Regions from separate parts of the Homo sapiens genome. Here region 1 is linked to region 2. A link means that fine-mapping ties the variant in region 2 to the expression of a gene that starts in the linked region. Tissue or cell type: blood mononuclear cells. Region 2 holds a variant in brackets; the other region holds the start of a gene. All regions are shown on one strand. Distances are from middle to middle.

Region 1 (5,125 bases), 49 kb after region 2:
CACAATTTCCAAAGAGCCAGAATACAACTTTGAAAATATGTCTATGTTACAGCACAGTTCCCGTTTAGATTTGGAAAGGCCAGATCTCATAAAATATGACCTCCACACATGCTGACAAGAGCTTCCTCCAGGGAAGCCCACCAGTAATGCCTGGTGGAGAGAGGTGGCTGCACAATGGCCCCCAGGGCCCCCGCCCTCAGACTAATCTTCTAGGTCCCAGGCCAGAGGCCAGTGGGACCACATCTTCCCAGCAAAACCAACTTTCCCTCTGCTTCCTCTTCCCAGTCACACTCACAGGTGGTGCACCAAGTTGAACCTGACAGTGGAACTGTGTGGGTTTCAAGATCGAGTGATCAGAAAGGAACGGTAAACAAGCTGGGTGCAGTGGCTCACGCCTGTAATCCCAGCACTTTGGGAGGCCGAGGCAGGTGGATCACCCGAGGTCAGGAGTACAAGACCAGCCTGGCCAACACTGTGAAACCCCTTCTCCACTAAAAATACAAAAATGAGCCGGGCATGCTGGTGCGTGCCTGTAGTCCCAGCTACTCGGGAGGCTGAGGCAGGAGAATTACTTGAACCCAGGAGATGGAGGTTGTAGTGAGCCAAGATCATGCCACTGCACTCCAGCCTAGGCAACACAGTGAGACTCGTCTCCAAAGAAAAGAAAGAAAAGGTAAACAAAATATTCAGATTTTAACATGCACCAAAGACCTCACTTTCAAAGCAACGGTGAAGTCAATTAATTATTCAGTTGGAAATCGTGTCACTGACAAAGGACGCTAGAAAGCAAATACTCTTAATTTACTGATACTATAAGTAACCAAGAATGGTGGTTCCCACGGAAATAAAGCATCACAGGCTGTCCTTGATCTCAGGACCTCTTTCTACTGCTGCTCTCACAAGATACCGTGTAACATTTCACTACAGAGTAATCCAACAGAAGCCCTCTAAAGAATATTGCAACTTAAGTTTTATTTGTAAACAAAATTCCAAATTCCAGTCACCAATCTGGCAGAGTAGAGTAGGAGGCCTGGAGGCCTCACTGTGGAACACTTTCATTTGTTTCTTCGTATAAATATCAGCTTTATCAGCCCCAAAGATTAGAAATTACTGGTTCGAACTGAACAGTCCTAGCCCAGTGACGCAAATGACCCAAGGATAAGGTTTTCATAGGTTTGGCCTGAACATACGCATTTCCTCCTCCTACTCAGTGGTTTTAGGTGAGACAGTCTGAGGGTCTTGACCGGCACACCCGTTAGGGAGAGATGAAGTAAAAGAGTTTCACGCTGCACTTTTACCTGTCTTTAGGATCCTAATTATCGTTAAATGGTTTAATCAAATTTTTGTCCTAAAAAAGCATAATAGGTTAGCTGACCAATGATTAAAACATTATAGATCCGGAACGAACTAGAGAAGGCATGCAAAATTCAGATGAGAAAGTTTCTAAGTGATAGCTCCAGCTACCCCTCCAAATATCACAAAGGTCTAGCAGAATTGGAATTAAAAAAAAAAAGTCCTCTTGCACGGTTTATTTAAAATAAAGCCTTAACCTTAAAATTCCCTTGAAGGTGTTACAGCAAAGTAGGTATTCAGGCTCTGACCAACAAGGGGATGTAGACAGGCTGTCACCCAGGAGGGGCCGTTAGAGCTGGGCTCCCTGGGGATGCAAGGGGGTCCCACGGGGCAGTGGGCGAGGCAGATGCAGAAAGCACACCCAGCTGCCCCCACAACGCAGAGAAGCGTGGGGTGGGGAAAGGGAACTAATTCCACACTGCCTCCGGACCCCAAAGGCGAGGTGCGGGGGCGGGGGCGGGGGCGGGGGCGGATATCCCAGTGAGTGCTGCAGGAAATGATATCCAGACTCGGAGGGTGGATCTAGGAAGCCGCCAGGGCGAGGGCCCGGCGGGGGGGAGGGGGTGGGAGTGGGAACGTAGGATGTGGCTCCAAGGGGCAGGATGAGGGGGCGGGACGATCGAACGCGGATGTCGAGCCTAGGGAGGGCAAGGAGGGATGAAAAGCTAGCGGAGGGACGAGGGTGCAAGGAGCGGCTGGAGAGAGATGGGCTGCGGGCCTGGGGGCGCTGCCAGAGCGAGAGGAGGCGAAGCCCACGAGCTGGGTGGGCAGGAGGGCGGCAGGGTCTGTCCGGGCGGGGATGGGCGGGCGTGGGGATGCGCGGGCTGGGGCGCGGGGGTCGCAGAGCCGCAGGTCCGGCCCTGCCGGCGCGCACTTACCCCACTCGAGGAACTCGGCCACGTACTTGTCGCGGCGCAGGGCCGAGTGGCTGCACTCGGTGTACAGGCAGACGAGCACGTCGAGCAGCGTTTCCACGCTCAGGGCGCTCTCGTTGCGCCAGGGCCCGTCCAGGAGCAGCTGCTCCAGCTTCTTGAGCCGCACCTTGGCCGACATGGTGCCGCGCGGCCCGCTCCCGACGCGCCGGCCTCTCACCGCCGGCTCGGCCAGTCCGTCAGGGCGCGCCCTCGGGGGCTCGGCGGCTGCGAGCCCCGGCAGCAGCGGCGCCTCCTCGCCGCCCCGTCCGCGTCGTCGCGCCCCGGCCTAGGCCGACATCTTGGGCTCCGTCCCGACGGCGCAGAGTCTGGGGCGCCGGGCCCCGCGGGTCCATGGGCCGCTCTCCTCCCCTCGGCGCCGCCGCCCTCCCAGCTCGGGCGGCCCGCCCCCGCCGCCCTCAGCCCCGCCCGCGGCCGCGCCCTCCCCGCCGCCGCCGCCGCAGACTAGGAGCGGCGAGGAGCCTAGCGCTGCGCAAGCCCGGCCGGCGCCCGAGCCCGACCCCAGCCCCGACCCGGCGGCCCAGCCCCGCGGCCCGCAGCCAACCAGGGCGCGGCCAGCACCAGCGCAGCCAACCACTACGGGGCCGGCCGCCGCCGCGCTGACCTCAGCGCGCCGCCCCGCCCCGCGCCCGGCTCCCTGCTCCCGGCGGGCTCGGGCCTCGCCGCTTGCCGTAGGGAGCCGGGATGCTGGGAAGGCAGGGCCGGGCCTGGGGAGCGGCGCGGGGTGGGGGTGGGGGGGGCGGGGCGGGGCGAGTGGGCCGCTGAGATTGCGGAGCCCGCGCATGCGCAGAGCGCGCCTGGTGGGCGTGTGCGCCTTCGCCCTGCGGACCCGGTGCCTTCAGTATTCGGGGTCCGACCGCGCGCGTCGCGGATCCCGGGGCCGAAGACGACCCCAAGTATCGGAGAGGCAGAGTCGCGATCTCAGGCCGTCGAGCCCCGTCCCGCAGTCCGCGGGCCCATGTTGCCTGCGGGGCCTCGGACCTGCCCGGCCGAGGTGGGGGTCGAGGGCGGCCCGGCAGGCGCAGCTCTGATGGCCTCGGCGGGTTGTGGGCTATTTAAAACGGCTTGTCCCAGCTCGAAGCGGTCCTGGAAGACTCGGGCCCTACCCCTGACTTTACCGATGAGAGACTGAGGCCCAGACGGTGTGGGGTCAGGGCCCAGGCTTCTGGGGGATGCTGCCAAGGCGGGAGCCAGCGTCCCCAGTGCCCGGTGGATTCGTGATGGCTTGCAGAGGGTTTCAGTTTCCACTGTCCAGCCCTCCCTGCAGACCAATGCCTAGGTGTGACAGTTTGGTAGGAAAGGGGCCGGATATTTGTCTCCAGGCTGGGTTTGCCTAGCGAGTCGCTGCATTTACTAAGATTGTTGGTTAATTTGGGTGGCTGGGGGAGGGAGGCTGATGGAGATACCCCCCAACCCCAACAAACCCTTGGCGTCAGGAGAGGAGGGGCTTTTCCTGGAGCTTGCGGAAGGTCACCGAAATCGTGGGGGTATCTGAGAGCTTCTGGGGCGCGCGGGTGCAGGGGAAGGGGTCATGCTTCCGTGGAAGCGGTGGCCTCCAGGTGGAGCCGATGAAGGGGCAGATAGGGGTTTGAAGCAGGACGTTAAGGGAGCCTGAAGCAAAACTAATCTCTGGAGCTAAAAATAGGAGTGGGCCTGGCGCGGTGGCTCACACCTGTAATCCCAGCACTTTAGGAGGCCGAGGTGGGCGGATTGCCTGAGCTCAGGACTTCGAGACCAGCCTGGGCAACACGGTGAAACCCCGTCTCTACTAAAATACAAAAAACTAGCCGGGCGTGGTGGCGCGCGCCTGTAGTCCCAGCTACTCGAGAGGCTAAGGCAGGAGAATTACTTGAACCCGGGAGGCGAAAGTGCAGTGAGCCAAGATCGCTCCACTGCACTCCAGCATGGGCAACAGAGCACGACTCCGTCTTAATAATAGTAATAATAATAAGAAGAAGAAGAAGAAGAAGAGGAGTGGCTGCCTATGCCGGAGTTGTTGACTGGAACAAGAGGAGGAACCTTCTGGGCTGCTGGTAATGTTCTATGCCTGGATTTGGGTAGTAGTTACATGGGAGCACGCATAAGTAAACATTCTTCAAACTGTCTTCTTAAGATGAGTGCATGTCACTGTGTGTATGTATATATAATACCTTCATTTCTTAAAGGCAGGTGAGAACAATCTGGCGTTAGAGGTGAGAGTACTGGTTGCCTTTGGGGTATCAACTGGAAGGAGGCACAAGGAGAGGCCTCTAGGGGGCTGGGAACATTCTGTATCTTCAGCACAGCCGTTTTGTAACGTTGGGTCTGTAAATGTGTATAAATTCATCAAACTGTATTCTAAATATTTGCATGTTACTATTTGTGTATGACACCTTAAAAGTTTTTTTTAAAAAGTCTGAGCAGATCACCTGGCTCAAAATCAAAGTTAAATCTTCCCCCTTGGACCCCTTAGGGCCTGAGATGAGCAAGGGGAAAGGGGGCTGTGCCTGGTGCCATCTCCTTCCCCAAACCTCCCTCGGCTCGCTCAGCCCACTTCCACCCATCTAGAACCACCACCGGGAAGGGAGAAAGGGAGAAGTGGGGAAGGGCTCCAATCCCATCTGGATTGGCAGAGGGTAAAGCTGACCCTGTCTCTCCTGGGAACATTCATGGGCTCCTCGGTGGTTCCCTGCTGCTTTGTCTCCTGAAGTCCCCTTAACTCAAGCAGATGTGCCACTGGGTGGATGCTTACCTGGTGGCTGTGGAGGGGAGGGGCCCTCTGCCCTTCCTGAGGGACTTTTGGACAGGACCTAAATGGATCCATGGGTCTTGTGCTTGCTCATCCACCCAGCTCACATCTG
Region 2 (5,196 bases):
AAAAAAGTTTTTCTTTCAAAATGAAATGGTTGGCTGCACACGGTGGCTCACGCGTGTAATCCCAGCACTTTGGGAGGCTGAGGCAGACGGATCGCGAGGTCAGGAGTTCAAGACCAGCTTGGCCAACATGGTGAAACCCCGTCTCTACTAAAAGTACAAAAATTAGCTAGGCGTGGTGGCGGGTGCCTGTAATCCCAGCTACTCGGGAGGCTGAGGCAGAGAATCGTTTGAACGCAGGAGACCGAGGTCGCAGTGAGCCAAGATCGTGCCATTGCACTCCAGCCTGGGCGACAGGGAGAGACGTCTCAAAAAAAAAAAAAAAAAAAAGATGGCTGTTGCAGCTGTGTCCCAGTTCTACTAATGACAACATGACAAGCGGTCAACATTCAGCTTGCTAATGTCCAGACATGCAGAGACCAGCAATTCTGGAATCATCACAACCCCTCTGCCAACAGCCACCTCAGCCACAAGGGCCTGGTGAAGGGACAACTAAAGAAAACCTGAGCCTCAGTGTGCCTGACCTCCTGTCTTCCAGAACGCGCCCCCAAAAAGAAATGGTGATGGAGTGCTGAGTCCCAGGTGAGGTGAGACCGTGGGCTCAGGAGGCCGGGGCTGCCCCGAGGATCTGCGGCACCTGTGCCAACGCCTCCAGGAGACGCTCCCTGAAGCTCTGCCTGGCAGCTAGCTGCCCAGAGCATTTAGGAAAAACCCATTCTTAAACTGGGGACTGCCTGCAAGGTGACCTGCTGACAGGAAACTTATGTATTATCCAGCAGTTTTGTTTAAGGAGCAGAGAGAGAAACTTTTAGTATTTTTTAACCAAGTAAGATGAAATAAAGACCTTGCCTGGTAGAAAAATTATAAACTACACTGCTTAGCAACTCTTCTACTGACCAACCTCTTAATTCATGCTTTTAAGAAAATTTTTTATAAATCAGTATTATAAAATTTAATGCTTAAAATAAGTCTATGATATAAAAATAAAAAGATAAATTATTTGCAACTAGCACCATATTTATTTTTATATCTCTTACACACATATACTCTAGTATAATCACCGCGACTGGCAAACATTCTTGAGCTTTTCTGAGCATGCCAATTAAACTGGATCTGTGTCACCAGATTCAAATTAAATCAGCAATATTTACTCTTTTTAAATGTACTCATCCACCATGACATTTAGGTAAATACCAAACACCTGATACCTCTCTACACTTTCATGTAACAGTAGCTACTTTTTCCCCTAAAAATTTGCTCCAATAACATTCCTGTGTTTGCCACTGTTTGGGGCGGGGAAAGGGCTGCTGGGGCTGAGGGCAGGCCCAGCGGAAGCACACAGTGAGATGACTGAGTGAAGATGGAGGAAAAGAGAGCAAAGGCTTCTCCCAAAGAAGGAAGGGAGACCGTGTACACCCCAGAAGCTGGGAGACCCAGGGGGCCGAAGCAATCACAGGCCACCGACATTTTGAGACCAGGGTAACTACAAAATGGTGCTAACTCTGTCAACCAACACGCGTTCAGTGAGCAACAAATGGTTGTGAGACCTTGTGCTGGGTGCCATAGCAGGGAAAGGGGAAATGGGTGCAGAGCGGGGGAGGGAAAAGCCAGAATGACTGAGTCACGAGGAACCGATAACACCCACCAAGTTAATAAAACCCAGGGCCCCAGAGAGATCTGGCCCGAATCGATGGTTGTACTGTTGTCGGCCCAAGGTGGCAACCATCATGGGCAGCACAGGCACAAATTCCAGGACCAAAGAGGAAAGCGTCACCTCAAATTACTAGAAGGGTGAGAGGAGTAAGAGGAGAGGGTCTAGAAACCCAAGAAGGACTTCCCAAAATGAGGAGGTGGCCACGTCGAGAGGTTCAACTCCAGAAGCAAGCGCTGACCGCAGGGCTGAGCAGCCTAGAGCCACCGCAGCGCTGCCAGGCACAGGCCTCGCTCAGGGCGGGTCAGAGACACACGGGGCCACAGCAAACCATTGTGATGAATGGCAGCCTGCAAGGAGGGGACTGCCAAGTGCCTTCTGGCAGAGGCGGGAGTCACGGGAGAGGATGGAGCATGATGGACGGAGCAGATCTGAAGCAGGAAGCAGGTCAACTGGCCAGGAAGGGCCTGGGCTCTGAGTGCAGGGGAGGGGAAGACAACAGGGCGGGTGAGGACAGAAACTCAAGATGGCCAGAGAGGAAAAGCGTGGGCTCCCCAGCAGGCCTGGCCTGCCTTAGGCAGGCAGGAGGGAGACCAATGGCAGAGCACGCGGCTGTAGAGGTGGGGTCAGAGGCATGGAATGGCCACCAAGAAGACTGACACGGAACTAAGAAAAAGGAGCTGATCAAAGCCTGCTGGGCAGTGGTCCA[C/CT]TTCATTTCTAATCGTGAGGATCCTCTAGGTGGGAATCTAAAGACCTATTCTGTATGTGAGCAGGGTCCAAACGTGTTAATTCCTTTTGTGTATGGAGCAGAACTGCAATCAATGCTGAAACTCTCCCGATGCTTTTTATTTGCCTTTACAGTAAACAGGACCCGCCAACATTCTCGAGGGTGCACTCTCAGGAACAGTGTCCAGCAAGCAAGTGGTCGCTGAGGCGGGGAGCAGCAGGCGCCAGGGAGGAGACTGAGACCTCCTCAAAAGAGAGTGCTCGCTCTGTCCGGGGGGCAGGGAGGCCCAGGGCTGTGGGGTGGCTGCAGCTTTTCCCCAGCTGGCTTCACAGTCACTTTCTGCTCACCCCAAGCCCCATTTGTATGGCTTTTCAAGCTCCATACTTACCTCTGCTCTTTTCAGCATCTCCCACTTGTTGAGGATTTTCATTGCATAAATTCGTTCAGTATTCTTCATTTTGACAACAGCAACCTGCAGTGCAAATGTGAGTTGAACAAAGATGCGGTTCTTGAACAAAAGGCTAGCACGCTGGAGCTAAACTGTAGTGAAATCCTAACAGCCCAGGAGCCTGTGAAACCAGCAGTGACCGAAAGCCAAGTTTCCCACCTAGCATGTGCCAGTTCCTGCATCAAGAACCTTTTCTTCACAGAGAAAGGGACCGGCCACGTGGGCTCCGGAGTTTCACTCCTGCAAATTCACCCCTTTATGGCTCGGGTTCCACCACTACAGGAGGTTAATGGCAGGACCGGACTCCTGAGACACCTATGAGGACCCATGAGCACTGACAGTTAATGTGCCCAGCACACTGTGGGGCACAGTCAGCACTCAGCGCGCGGCCACCAGCCACATTCTTTAAAGAACAATTCAAGTGCCACCTCCTTCAGGAAGTCCTCTTGGACTTTCCAGTTTCTACCAAATCTTGAATAAGCTCTGCCATCACTACCAACACCCGTCAAGATGTCTGCACCATTGTCTGGTGCATTCCACCCTACGTAAGTCACTCACACACGGGCCCAAGTCTCCAACTCAGCACTTCCTGTAAGCTACTCACTGGCAGTGACAGCGGCTTCCATACCTTCTGGCTGCCAATGGCAAGCAGCCAGCATGTCCCCGTGCCTGCAGCAGCCATGGCCTGAAGAGGTCTTAAATGGCAGTATCATCTACCTGCCTGTTTCTAACATCAAATACCACACAGTCACATCGTAGAGTCACTGTGAGAGCTGCCATTCACCAGGCACATTCTGCGTGCCAGAGACGGTGTTGAGCCGCGCATCCGCACCCCCACTTCACCCTCACAGCGACCCCAGCTGCGGGGGATTTCTAAAATCCATCTTGTACAGATATGGACTCTGAGGCTCCAAGGGAACAAGACCAAGGAGGGAATCCAAGAAGCAAAGGCCGCATGGAAAGGACAGGCTCCCTTCAATCAGAGGAGCTCAAAAAGCGATCAATGTTATCTTCTTTGAAACTCACACAAAACTGAGTTTTGCATTAAGTTTTTGGCAAAAAAGAGTACTAAAAATAACCGTAAACCATTCTGTTAAAACAATTTTCTCTCTCATTCCTTCATTTCCCTTGGTCGTCTCTCTGCCCTGGTGTGCCTCTCCCTCCCTCCTAAATGCATTCTGGAAAGTCCTGCCATGGCTGAAGGGCTCTGTGTGGCCTGGGCCCTGCTCACCTCCAAAGCCCCCATGCCTGGCACAGCTCAATGCTTGGTAGCAGACAGACAGGCAATCACTTAATGCAATCTGTTTTTACTTTTAAAAGGCTTTCTCAACTAGGTACAGTGGCTCATGCCTATAATCCCAGCACTCTTGAAGGTGGAGGCAGGACAATCACTTGTGCCCAGGAGTTTGAGACTAGCCTGGGCAACATAGCAAGATCCCTGTCTCTACTAAAAAGAAAAAAAGAAAACAACTAGCCAGGTACAGTGGTGCATGCCTGTGGTCCCAGCTACTTGGGAGGCTGGGGCGGGAGGGTTGCTTGAGCCCAGGAGTTCAAGATCAGTCTGGGCAACATAGTGACACCCCATTTCTACAAATAATAAAAAAAATTAGCCGGGCGTGGTGGCACATGCCTGTAGTCACAACTACTCAGGAGGCTGAGGAAGAAGGGTCACCTGAGCCTGGGTGGTGGAGGCTGCAGTGAGCTGTGATCATGCCAGCACACTCCAGCCTGGGCGACAGAGCAAGACCCTATCTCAAACAAAATAAACAAACTCTCTGTCCCATCCTGGCCTGTGGTAAATTGACTTTGGCTGGTGAGGCCTGGATCCAGGGTCTGTACTGAGATAAACTGGGAGCTCCGGGCACGATGGGACGAGCCTTGCAGGGGCTGCTCTCCTCCCCTATCCCTCTGGTGAGACTCACTCATGGGGATGGTGCTGCGAGAGGGGGGCTATTTCCCTAAAGTACTGATTTGCCTTCTTTCACGTCTGCACACTGGAAAATGCACGCCCTGCACAGCAAAGGCCATCTCGCTTTGTAGTGGTGTCCAGTAGGTTTGCTGTGGGCAGAGCACACCTGCTGCTGGGATGTGACACAGGGCGTTTCCTTGTTTGATTTTTCCTCAGTGAACCAAAAGGCACAGTTCCCCAGCCAAGGAGAGCTTAGATCAAACCTCAGCATAGGTGCTAAGGCACTGCACAGTTTAAGAAGCAAAACTTGGCCAGGCGCGGTGGCTCACGCCTGTAATCCCAGCACTTTGGGAGGCTGAGATGGGCGGATCACGAGGTCAGGAGATCAAGACCATCCTGGCTAACACGGTGAAACCCCATCTCTACTAAAAATACAAAAAATTAGCTGGCCTGGTGGCGGGCAC

Evidence for each region. PIP is the estimated chance that this variant, and not a neighbour inherited with it, causes the effect.
Region 1: CDC42BPB starts here. The variant in region 2 is fine-mapped to the expression of CDC42BPB in blood mononuclear cells (TOPMed, PIP 0.94). The same link has a PIP of 0.9 or more in monocytes.

The regions. Positions count from the first base shown.
Region 1 is chr14:103,054,768-103,059,892 of GRCh38, forward strand. CDC42BPB (CDC42 binding protein kinase beta) reads right to left here and starts at 2,782. Exons shown (of 37, transcript NM_006035.4): 1 at 2,232-2,782. The coding sequence starts at 2,406. RefSeq lists silencers at 2,454-2,533, 2,624-3,123, 3,164-3,273 and an enhancer at 3,269-3,919.
Region 2 is chr14:103,005,709-103,010,904 of GRCh38, forward strand. CDC42BPB (CDC42 binding protein kinase beta) reads right to left here. Exons shown (of 37, transcript NM_006035.4): 3 at 2,764-2,847. Among named protein-coding and RNA genes, the nearest start is that of CDC42BPB, 49 kb to the right of the region's middle. RefSeq lists a silencer at 3,264-3,558 and an enhancer at 3,264-3,558. The variant C/CT (reference allele first, on the strand shown) is at 2,358.